Regions from separate parts of the Homo sapiens genome. Here region 2 is linked to region 1. Evidence: fine-mapped expression QTL. Tissue or cell type: whole blood. Region 1 holds a variant in brackets; the other region holds the start of a gene. All regions are shown on one strand. Distances are from middle to middle.

Region 1 (5,334 bases):
ACCTTTGCACATAGCTCACCCGTAGCTCTCTCCTGTACCATTTTGACAATGTCTTTAATTTGTCCCCCAGCTACCAAGGGCTTGCCCTGTGTTCCAGTCCCTTGATGGAAGTTGTTCATTATCACATGCCTGCAATATGTCTGGGAACACAGTGTTGGGTAGTGCGGGAGCTTTTTTAAAAAAAGTATATGACATGGCCTCATCTCAAGAAGTCTGAAGAACATGAGTTAACCCAAAGGACTCATTTGTTCCAGTATGTTAATGGAAGATAGTGGCTTGATGTGGTTTTCCTAATGTAGGATGTTACTAGATCTGAATTTGGGCCCGGTCTCCTTTCTCTTAAAGAAGAAACTTGACAAAAGAGAAGGCTGATGAGGGATAGGCAGGGTGATAAGCAAAAACCTGTCTAATAGGAAAGAAGGCCTCACATGGTATACCTCTCCAGACCAGCTATCTATAACCTTCACAATCACCCACGATCACTTTCAGTGAGATTACATTTCCTAGAGATGGCCACTCGAGAGAGAAACAGATGAGCTTAGAATGTTTTGTCTCCCCCTCTCTTACTTAACCTATCTTGGGATGTGTCTAGTATCTTTTTCTCTCTCTCTTTTTTTTTTTTTTTTAATTTGAGGCAGAGTCTCACTCTGTCGCCCAGGCTGGAGTGCAGTGGCACAATCTTGGCTCACTGCAACCTCCACCTCCCGGGTTCAAGCGATTCTCCTGCCTCAGCTTCCCAAGTAGCTGGGATTCCAGGTATCCGCCACCACGCCTTGCTGATTTTTGTATTATTAGTAGGGATGGATTTTCACCATGCTGCCCAGGCTGATCTTGAACTCCTGACATCAGGTGATCTGCCTGCCTTGGCCTCCCAAAGTGCTGGGATTACAGGCCTGAGCCACCACACCCGGCAGAGATGTGCCTAGTTTCTAAAGTCACTCCCCTGTGACTAGGTAACTGAACACAGAACAATTTGACTACTACTGCCCACTCCTCTAGAGTCCCATTTAAAAGGCAACACCTGATAGCAGCCAGTGCTAATTGGTGATGGAAATGGAATGGGTTACTCCCTCGACTCCCACAACACTTACTGCCTGATTTGTTTCCACATGGATTCAACTGGGCACGCAATAAGACTTGCCTCTAAGCTTTCTGCACAGTCTGAGGGAAAGATTTCAAGTGTGGTGCAGGTGTTAAACTCCAGTCATATTGTGTATTTTTACTAATGATTTCAAGAATTGGGGATCTTTTGGATACAATTTGGGTAGAGTCCTAAGGCCATCTACAGTAATAAAAGCAAAACCAATTAGTAGGTTGTTTAATTCATTTAGAGGCTATCTGCATGCTAGCAGTTTTCCTCTGCTAAATCCTGTTAAGATGCAGTGGGTTCTGCCAGGCACGGTGGCTCACGCCTGTAATCCCAGCACTTTGGGAGGCCGAGGAGGGTGGATCACGAGGTCAGGAGATCGAGACCATCCTGGCTAACACGGTGAAACCCCATCTCTACTAAAAATACAAAAAATTAGCCGGCCGCGGTGGCGGGTGCCTGTAGTCCCAGCTACTTGAGGGGCTGAGGCAGGAGGATGGCGTGAACCCGGGAGGCGGGGCTTGCAGTGAGCCGAGATCTCGCCACTGCACTCCAGCCTGGGTGAAAGAGCGAGACTCCATCTCAAAAAAAAAAAAAAAAAAAGAAAAAAAAGCAGTGGGTTCTATTTTGTGCAGACGGAGTAGGCTGCCATGACAACTGTCTGTGAATATTATTTCAATATTAGTCATACATTTCTAGCGTCTGCTTCTGGGCTCAGCGTTCTTCTAAAGCCTGGATACAAATTTATTCTTAATGGACCTCTCCTGGACGTGTTTACAAAAAGAACAAAAACAAAACACTTTCAACTGGCTGACTTTTTTTTTCTTTCAGAAGAGAAATTTGAATGAATTCACACAACTGAAAATTGATTGTGAATCTTATTGTCATTTTTTCTTTTAAAAAGGTGATTGTGATGTGAACTTATATGGTGCTGGATTATAGATTTTACTGAATAGAAGCACTACACCAGGATTTGGAAAGTTCCCCTGTAGGCATGTAGTCCTTACAGTAAAATTATTATTTTTTTCTTCTAACAGTATCAGAAAGAATCTTGTAGTTGCCTGTGGCAGAAGATCCGACCCAAACTGAGCAAAACCAGTTTCAAACGAATCTGGTTTGAAACTTCCGAAGGTAAGATTTGATCCAGAGACTAAGGATGGAGGGCTCCGGCTCCATTTCCCTGCCTTTTGGTTGGCCCTTCCCCATGTATCAATTTCACCCCCTGGACTGGCTCTTCTCATGGTGAAACCTTGCTCAGAGCACCACACTAGGGGGAGATAAGTGAGTCTGTCCCAGCACTCTCTCCAGGTACCC[C/T]GAGATTCACTCATAATATCTTTCTTTAGCTATACGCCCACCCCAAACACTCCTTTTTGCCAGGAGAAGAGGATATGCTGTCTTAGGCCTGAATTATGTGCTTGTTCCTGAAAAGTTGCTGTTGCTTGGGGAGTGGGCTCGGATAATTGGCTTAAGTCAACCAGGGCCCGCGCTTAGAGTTGGGGGCTGCGTCAGTCCCATGCAAATCACTTGGCTAAAAAACAGGAAGCGGGGGTGATTTCGAAAAGGAAAATTGTGATTCTATTACAAGGAAGTTAGGGGACTATTTGCTAGCCACCTGGTTAGGGAACAGAATGCTGGCCTAATGATAATAATAATAGCTAACATTTATTGAATACTATGAGCCAGGCACCAAGCTGCTTTATAGTTGTATTGGTTAGAGAATGTGTTTGGCTGCCTGAAATAAGGTAAATAGAACACCAGGGGCTTAACACAGAGCGCTTGGTTTTCGTCCCACATGATACGAAGCCAGGAGATATACAGTGTCACATTGTCATCCAGGTCTCAAGCTCGTCCCTCCATCCTGCATCCATCCTGCATCATGGTTTCGCTATTCTCAGTGTGAGGCTTTCTTCCTAGTGTGCATGAGATGGCTGCTCCTCCTCCAGGCATTGTGTCCTGGTTCCAGGCAGAATAGGGGGAAGGACAAAAGAGAAGAGGCTTATGCCAGCTGAGTCTTTTCCTTTTTATCAGGAAAATAGCTTTTCTGGAAGCCTCAGCCCATAGATTTCTGCTTGTATCTCAAGGGCTAGAACTGTGTCACATGACTACCCATAGTTGCAAGGGAGCCTAGCAAATCAAGTTTTGTTGCCCGAACACTGCCACCTAGAACAAAACGGGGGTTTTATTAGTAAGGAACAGGGGGAGAATGGACAGTAATGATCAGTGGCTGCTACAATGTGTGTTAACCCATTCATTCGTTACGTCAACCCAGTGTGATTGGTGCTATCTGTAGCCTCGTTTTATAGTTGAAGCAATAGGCACAGAGAGGTTATGTAATTTGCCCAAGCTCACACAGAGCTGTTAAGTGGTTGAGCAAGAACTTGAACCCAAGCAAGCTGACTCTAGAATCTAATTCTATTATGTCCCTAGACACATCCTGACCCACTGGCCAGACCACATTTCTTCTCTAGGATGTATATCCACTTGGGAAATGCAGGCCTCTCCTGGAAATGGTAGCTAATACTTGTTTAGCACTTTATAGTTTACAAAGAGATTGCCACTTAAATTATTCTCTTTAAATATTCTTCTTTTTTTTTTTTTTTTTTTTTGAGACAGAGTCTCACTCTGTTGCCCAGGCTGGAGTGCAGTGGCACGATCTCAGCTCACTGCAACCTCCACCTCCCAGGTTCAAGTGATTCTCGTGCCTCAGCCTCCGGAGTAGCCGGGACTATAGGCGCACACCACCATGCCTGGCTAATTTTTGTATTTTTAGTAGAGACGGGGCTTTACCATGTTGTCCAGGCTGGTCTCGAACTTCAGACCTCAAGTGATCCACCTGCCTTGGCCTCCCAAAGAGCTGGGATTACAGGTGTGAGCTACAGCGCCCGGCCTATTCTCATTTTTAAAATGAGGAAACTGAGGTTTAGAGGAGTTATGTAAGTTGCCTAAGATCCCCAGGTTGAAAGTGGCAGAGCTGATATTTCCTCAAAATTATAAAAACTTACTCCAGTTTCCCTTTCTTAATCTTCCTGTTCTTCTCTGCACAGAGGAGTTCATTTCTAGTTTTTTTAAATGGCAATATTTCACTTTAGGCCCTATATTAACTTCATAACCTTCTCACGAAAACCAAACCAGAGAAATCTTGGCTCTCTCGCCTACTTGTTTTCACATAGGCCACCAGGAGGAATGTGCCACATCAGTGGGAACTGTGACAGAAGTAAGTAATGGAGGCCTGGAAAGGGAGGTGGTTTTTCTCTCACATCATATAAAATCCAGAGCTTCCGTCAGAAAATGAAAGTGTTAGTTACAAATAGCTCTTATTGACCTGTTAAAGAGTTATTAAACATGTAGACATTGCTTCTCATTAGTTACATCAGATTAATTTGTTACTTTTCTTTAAAACTATTTCATAAATTGAACTTGTCACTGAGTAAGAATTGACAGCCCACTTCACTGGGATAAATTAGAGAAGTTTCACTACATTACTGACACGTCAGTTTGCTTATGATTATTATTTCTCTCGTTCTTTCCAAGTCTTTGAAATCTTTAGCTTTTGGCATTGCTTTATTTACATATCACAACATTCTTTTGTTTTGGTCTTACTACTGAGTAAACCATAAAAATTAATTGTAGAATTAATACATTTTAGGGAGACATGAGAATTCAATCAAATACATTTAAGAAATACATTGGTTCAGTTCAGAAAGGCAGGACAACTCGAAGCAAGGGGGAGGAGGGGCGTGGCTTCCGGGTTATAGGTAGATTGAAAAATGTTCTAGTTGACAGTTGGTTGAGTTTATCCAAAGACCTGGGATCAGTAGAAAGGAGATGTCTGGGTTAAGGGACTGTGGAGACCAAAGTTCTTATTGTGCAGATAGATGAAGCCTTCAGGTAGCAGGCTTCAGAGAGGACAGATTGTAAATGTTTCTTATCCGTCCTAAGGTCTGTGTTTATATTAATACCGGAGAGGTATAATGAGGCATGTTGGACCTCTGCTTCTCGTCATGGCCTGAAGCAGTCTTTCAGGTTAAATTTTAAAGTGCCCTGGCCTAGGAAGAAGTCCATTCCAATGGTTGGGCGGGGATTAAAATTTTTCTTTTGGTTTACACTCCAAAAGCTATGAATGAGGCCAGGTGTGGTGGCTCACGCCTGTAATTCCAGTGCTTTGGGAGCCCAAGAATTTGAGACCAGCCTGGGCAAGATGGTGAAACGCCATCTCTGTAAAAAATAAAAAATTAGCCGAGTGTGGT
Region 2 (5,161 bases), 21 kb after region 1:
TGGCTGATGCCTGTCATCCCAGCACTTTGGGAGGCTGAGGTGGGCACGTTGCTTGAGGCCAGGAGTTTGAGACCAACTTGGGCAACATGGTGAGACCCCATGTCTACAAAAAAGTACAAAAATTAGCTGGGCATGGTGGCGCATGCCTGTAGTTCCAGCTGCTCAGGAGGCTGAGGTAGGAGAATCACTTGAGCCCGGGAGGTGGAGGCTGCAGTGAGTCATGGTTGCGCCACTGCACTCCAGCCTGGGTGACAGAGCGAGACCTTGTCTCAAAAAATAAATAAAAATTTGGAAGTAACCCAAAGTTTAGGAAGGCTAATTCATTCAATACATAAAATAATCAGGTTCACCTCTGGTCAGAAAATCTGTTTACTAAGCTTATTGTTATTTTCAAAACATGGCCATAGTTCAAATATTTTGCTTATTTTAGTTTTCCCTTTCTTCAGTCGAGTTGAAATTTTGAAGCTTTTGGTGTAGTACCAATGGAAAGATAGATATGTCAGTTGTTTGCTGACTTTGTGCCTGTCAAGAAATGCAAATAGGGCTGGGCAAGATGGCTCACACCTGTGATCCCAGCACTTTGGGAGGACAAGGTCGGAGGATCACTTGAGCCCAGGAGTTTGAGACCAGCCTCGGCAACATAGGGAGACCCTGTCTCTACAAAAAAATAAAATTAGCCGGGTGTCACGGCACATGCTTGGGAGGTTAAGGCTGCAGCGAGCCGTGATTGTGCCACTACACTCCATCCTGGGTGACAGAGTGAGACCCTGTCTGAAAAAAAAAAAAAAAAAAAAGGAATGCAAATATATTAGATCAGGTTGGTTTGGAGCATCACAAAATAAAGGAAACATCACCCTAAAAAGTGACGTGACAGTATACTATGGAAAGGAATTTTGTTGAAAACTCCCGTGAAGTGATTATGGGAGTCAGGGAGCTCATGAGAAGGACTATAGAACACAAAGTTAGACTCCAGAGGGGCCTCAGCAGTGCCCAGAGAGCTTGTTTAAAAGGGCACTCTTGGCCAGGCACGGTGGCTCACGCCTGTCATCCCAGCACTTTGGGAGGCCGAGGCAGGTGGATCACCTGAGGTCAGGAGTTCGAGACCATCCTGGCCAACACAGCAAAACCCCGTCTCTACTAAAAATACAAAAAATTAGCCAGGTGTGGTGGCGCATGCCTGTAGTCCCAGCTACTAGGGAGGCTGAGGCGGGAGGATCACCTGAGCCTGGGAGGTTGAGGCTGCAGTGAGCTGTGATCACACCACTGCACTCCAGCCTGGGTAATAGAGCGAGACTCCGTCTCAAAAAATAAAATAAATAAAAGGACACTCTCACAGATTACAATTCCTAAATTTGGGGGGAGGTTTCAAACCTCCTTTTTTTTTTTTTTTTTTTTTTTTTTTTGAGATGGAGTCTCGCTTTGTCGCCCAGGCTAGAGTACAGTGGTGCGATCTCAGCTCACTGCAACCTCCGCCTCCTGGGTTCAAGCGATTCTGCTGCCTCAGCCTCCTGAGTAGCTGGGATTACAGACATGTGCCACCATGCTTGGCTAATTTTTGTACTTTTAGTAGAGACGGGGTTTCACCATGTTGGCCAGGCTGGTCTCGAACTCCTGACCTCGTAATCCGCCCGCCTCGGCCTCCCAAAGTGCTGGGATTGCAGGCGTGAGCCACTGCGACCGGCTGCCTCCTTTTTTTTAAAACAAATGTTCCCAACTTATTCCGCGAAATACTGTCAAAGAACTCACTTTGAATTTCAGCATAGCTGTTAAATATGTTGTTTTTGTCTCATAGTCAACTTCCAATTTGTGTTTTTAAAAGCCTAGATAGGTTGAATTACTTTGAGCTGAAAACCAAAACAGTTAATTATGTCAGCTCCTCCACATCCCATTCCCCATATTTAAATTAGAAAATCGTACACTCTCATATTTCGATTTTTCTTTTCATTTTGAATGCTCTATTTTATACAGAGCTGGATGTGACCTAGACATGGAGAAACTCATTTATGTCTAGCAGAGAAGCAGCCTATAGCTGCTCTGTAGCTGCTGCTGTGTTTTGGAAAATAAGCCAGGATTAGATTATGTCTGATCACTTTCCACATCACATGATGAACAGCGATTCAGAAGAAGCGTAAAATGAATCCTGCTGAGCAGCCCCTCAGCTACCATGTGGTTAACTGGCGGTTTCCTTCCCTCCCTCCTGTGTATTCCTCATTAGAATCTATGACTGAAGAGGATCGGCTAAGAGTGGTTCCTCGCAGCTTAAAGGGAGGCACTTTTCACACTCTGTCTTAAAATCAGAAGTTGAATTCATGAACACATATGATTTAGATAGAAGTCATGGGATGCAGCAGTTCTTCAACGAAAACCAGGAGATCTGACACATGTGAGTACTGGGAATGTGCCTGTGGTTATGAATGAAAAGGGGAAAATGAGCTGCCCTCACCCTCTTCTCCTTTCTCATTTACTCCCACGATGCTCAAGCTGCCCTGTGTGATTTGCACAAGGCATCGTTAGAGTAGCATAGGAAACTACATTTAGGAAGATGTAGCTTTGAATTTATGAAGTACCATAAAGTATTGTCTTAGAGATATTTTGTGTTTGATTTAATTTCATTCGATAATGTACCAATATAAAATCTCAATTTAAAACTCAGTGGCAGGGAACAAGAAAGGCAGTGTAATTTATATGTGTTTCTTCAATACTTTTATAAATAGCTATATCCCTACTTTTGTGACATTTAGTAGCATCATTGAATTTTTATTGGATTTTATAACTCAATGATCACATTATTTCTATATCTATTCAACACAGAACTTCATGAGATTTGCATCACGTTTTAAAAATAATCTAGGAGAATTGGGAGAATGCTAGATCATCTGTTTCCAAAAAAAAGGTGTATTGTTTCTAAATAGATGGCATGCCTTTCTGTACCCCCATATAATTAGAAGCTTAAATATTCACTTTGTTTATTTTGTACTGAGGTTCTTTCTCATGGCTATTGGCATCTAGTTGAAACAAACTTGAGCATTTAAGGGATAGAGTTTCCAACAAGCAAATTAAAATAAAAACAAGTAAATAAGCTGGGACAATTAATATGAGTAATTTGCTCTTAAACTCCACTTCTTTGATGTCTAGGTTATAGGTAATTCCCCCAACTTCTATTCCACGTCTTGCCTTTGGAAGTTTATTCAGGCTTAAGGTGGAGGGTTTAGGATGCAGAGTGTGCTATACTAATTAGCGTGGGATGTTTTACTTTGGGAATCAAATGTTATTCTCCTACCCAGCTGACTTGTGCTGATGATGTAGGAAACTCATCTCTGAAAGTAGGAAGGGACATAGGAGGTGTACTGACTCTTTCAAATCTTTAAGCATGTCATGAAATAAATCTTTCAAAAGCTCCATCTGAACTCTACTGCTGTAGTAGACGTTTATTAGCAGAGAGTAAAGAGAAATTATCTTTTTATATCTAGGATTACTCACAGTTCTTTAAATTTAGCCAAATTTCCTAGGTTAAAAAAAAAAAAGCCAAGTCCAACTTGTAAAAACAAATCCTCTCTCTTTTTGAAATACTTTTCAACTTTTAAAACATTGCATGTAAGTGGAAATATTAGCTTAGATTTTTGGATTGCTTTTTCTTTCAAATACCTGTGATTTATTGAGGTGAAATTCACGTAACATAAAATTAGCCATTGTCAAGTGAACAACTCAGCAGCAGTTGGTATGTTCACAGTGTCGTGCAACCACAACCCCTATGTACTTCTGAGACATTTCCAACACTCCAAAGTAAAACCCCTTATCCATTAAGCACTTTCTCCTCTCAGCCCCTGGCAACCACAAATCTATATTCAGTCTCTATGGATTTATCTATTCTGGACATTTCATGTAAATGGAGTCATATATTATGTGACCTTTTGTGTCTGGCTTTGTCCATGTTGTAGCATGTATCAGTACTATATTCCTTTTTATTGTGGAATAATATTTCATTGTATGAATATGCCACATTGTATTTATCCATTCATCAATTGATAGACATTTGGATTGTTTCAGCTTTGTTTTTTGTTTTTTGTTTTTTTTGAGACAGTCTTGCTCTGTCACCCAGGCTGGAGTGCAGTGGGGCGATCTCGGCTCGCTGCAACCTCCGCCTCCCAGGTTCAAGCGATTCTCCTGCCTCAGCCTCTGGAGTAGCTGGGATTACAGGCACACACCACCACACCTAGCTAATTTTTGTATTTTTGGTAGAGACAGGGTTTCACCATGTTGGCCAGGCTGGTCTCGAACTCCTGACCTCAGGTGATCTGCCCGCCTCGGCCTCCCAAAGCGCTAGGATTACAGGCGTGAGCCACTGTGCCCGACCTGTTTCAGCTTTTTGACTGTTATGAACAATGCTGCTGTGAACATATGTTTTCCGTTCTCTTGGGTATATACCTAGAAGTGGAATTGCTGGGTCATACGGTAGCTTTATGTTTAACATTTTGAGAAATTTCCAAGCTGTTTTCCCAAGTGACTGCACCATTCTACATTCCTACCAGCAGTGTATAAAGGTTTCAATTTCTCCACATTTTCAGCGATAGTTGTTATTGTCTGTCCTTTTGATTTTAGTCATCCTAGTGGGTATGAAGTGGTATCACACCATGGTTTTCATTTGTATTTCAGTAGTGACTAATGACATTGAGCATCTTTTCATGTGTTTATTGGCTATTTGTATATCTGCTTTGGAGAAATGTCTATTCAGATCATTTACCCATTTTTAATTGAATTATTTATTTTTATATTGTTGTAAGATAAATTTATATATTCTAGATACAAGTTTCCTATCAAATATGTGACTTGCAAATATTTTCTCTCATTTGTTGAATTCTCTTCATCCTTTCTTAATGGTGTTCTTTGAAGCACAAAAGTTTTTACTTTTGATGAAGTTCACTTTATTTTTTCTTTGGTTGCTTGTGATTTTGGTGTCATATCTAAGAATCCATTCCCGAGTCCAAAAAGATTTTTGCTCACGTCTTACTTTAAGAGTTTTGTAACAACTCAACAAGAAAAAAAAGATAACTCCATTAAAAAGTGGGCAAAGGTCATGAACAGACATTTTTTCAAAAGAAGGCATACAAATGGCTAACAAACACACGAAAAAAATGCTCAACATCACTAATCATCAGGTAAA

Evidence for each region. PIP is the estimated chance that this variant, and not a neighbour inherited with it, causes the effect.
Region 2: PPEF1 starts here. The variant in region 1 is fine-mapped to the expression of PPEF1 in whole blood (TOPMed, PIP 0.99).

What each region holds. Positions count from the first base shown.
Region 1 is chrX:18,684,014-18,689,347 of GRCh38, forward strand. PPEF1-AS1 (PPEF1 antisense RNA 1) reads right to left here. Exons shown (of 3, transcript NR_046642.1): 3 at 4,630-4,892. It also overlaps a transcript of PPEF1 not described here. Among named protein-coding and RNA genes, the nearest start is that of PPEF1-AS1, 6.0 kb to the right of the region's middle. The variant C/T (reference allele first, on the strand shown) is at 2,402.
Region 2 is chrX:18,705,444-18,710,604 of GRCh38, forward strand. It overlaps PPEF1 (protein phosphatase with EF-hand domain 1), which reads left to right and starts at 2,202. Exons shown (of 16, transcript NM_001377996.1): 1 at 2,202-2,383. The coding sequence starts at 2,338.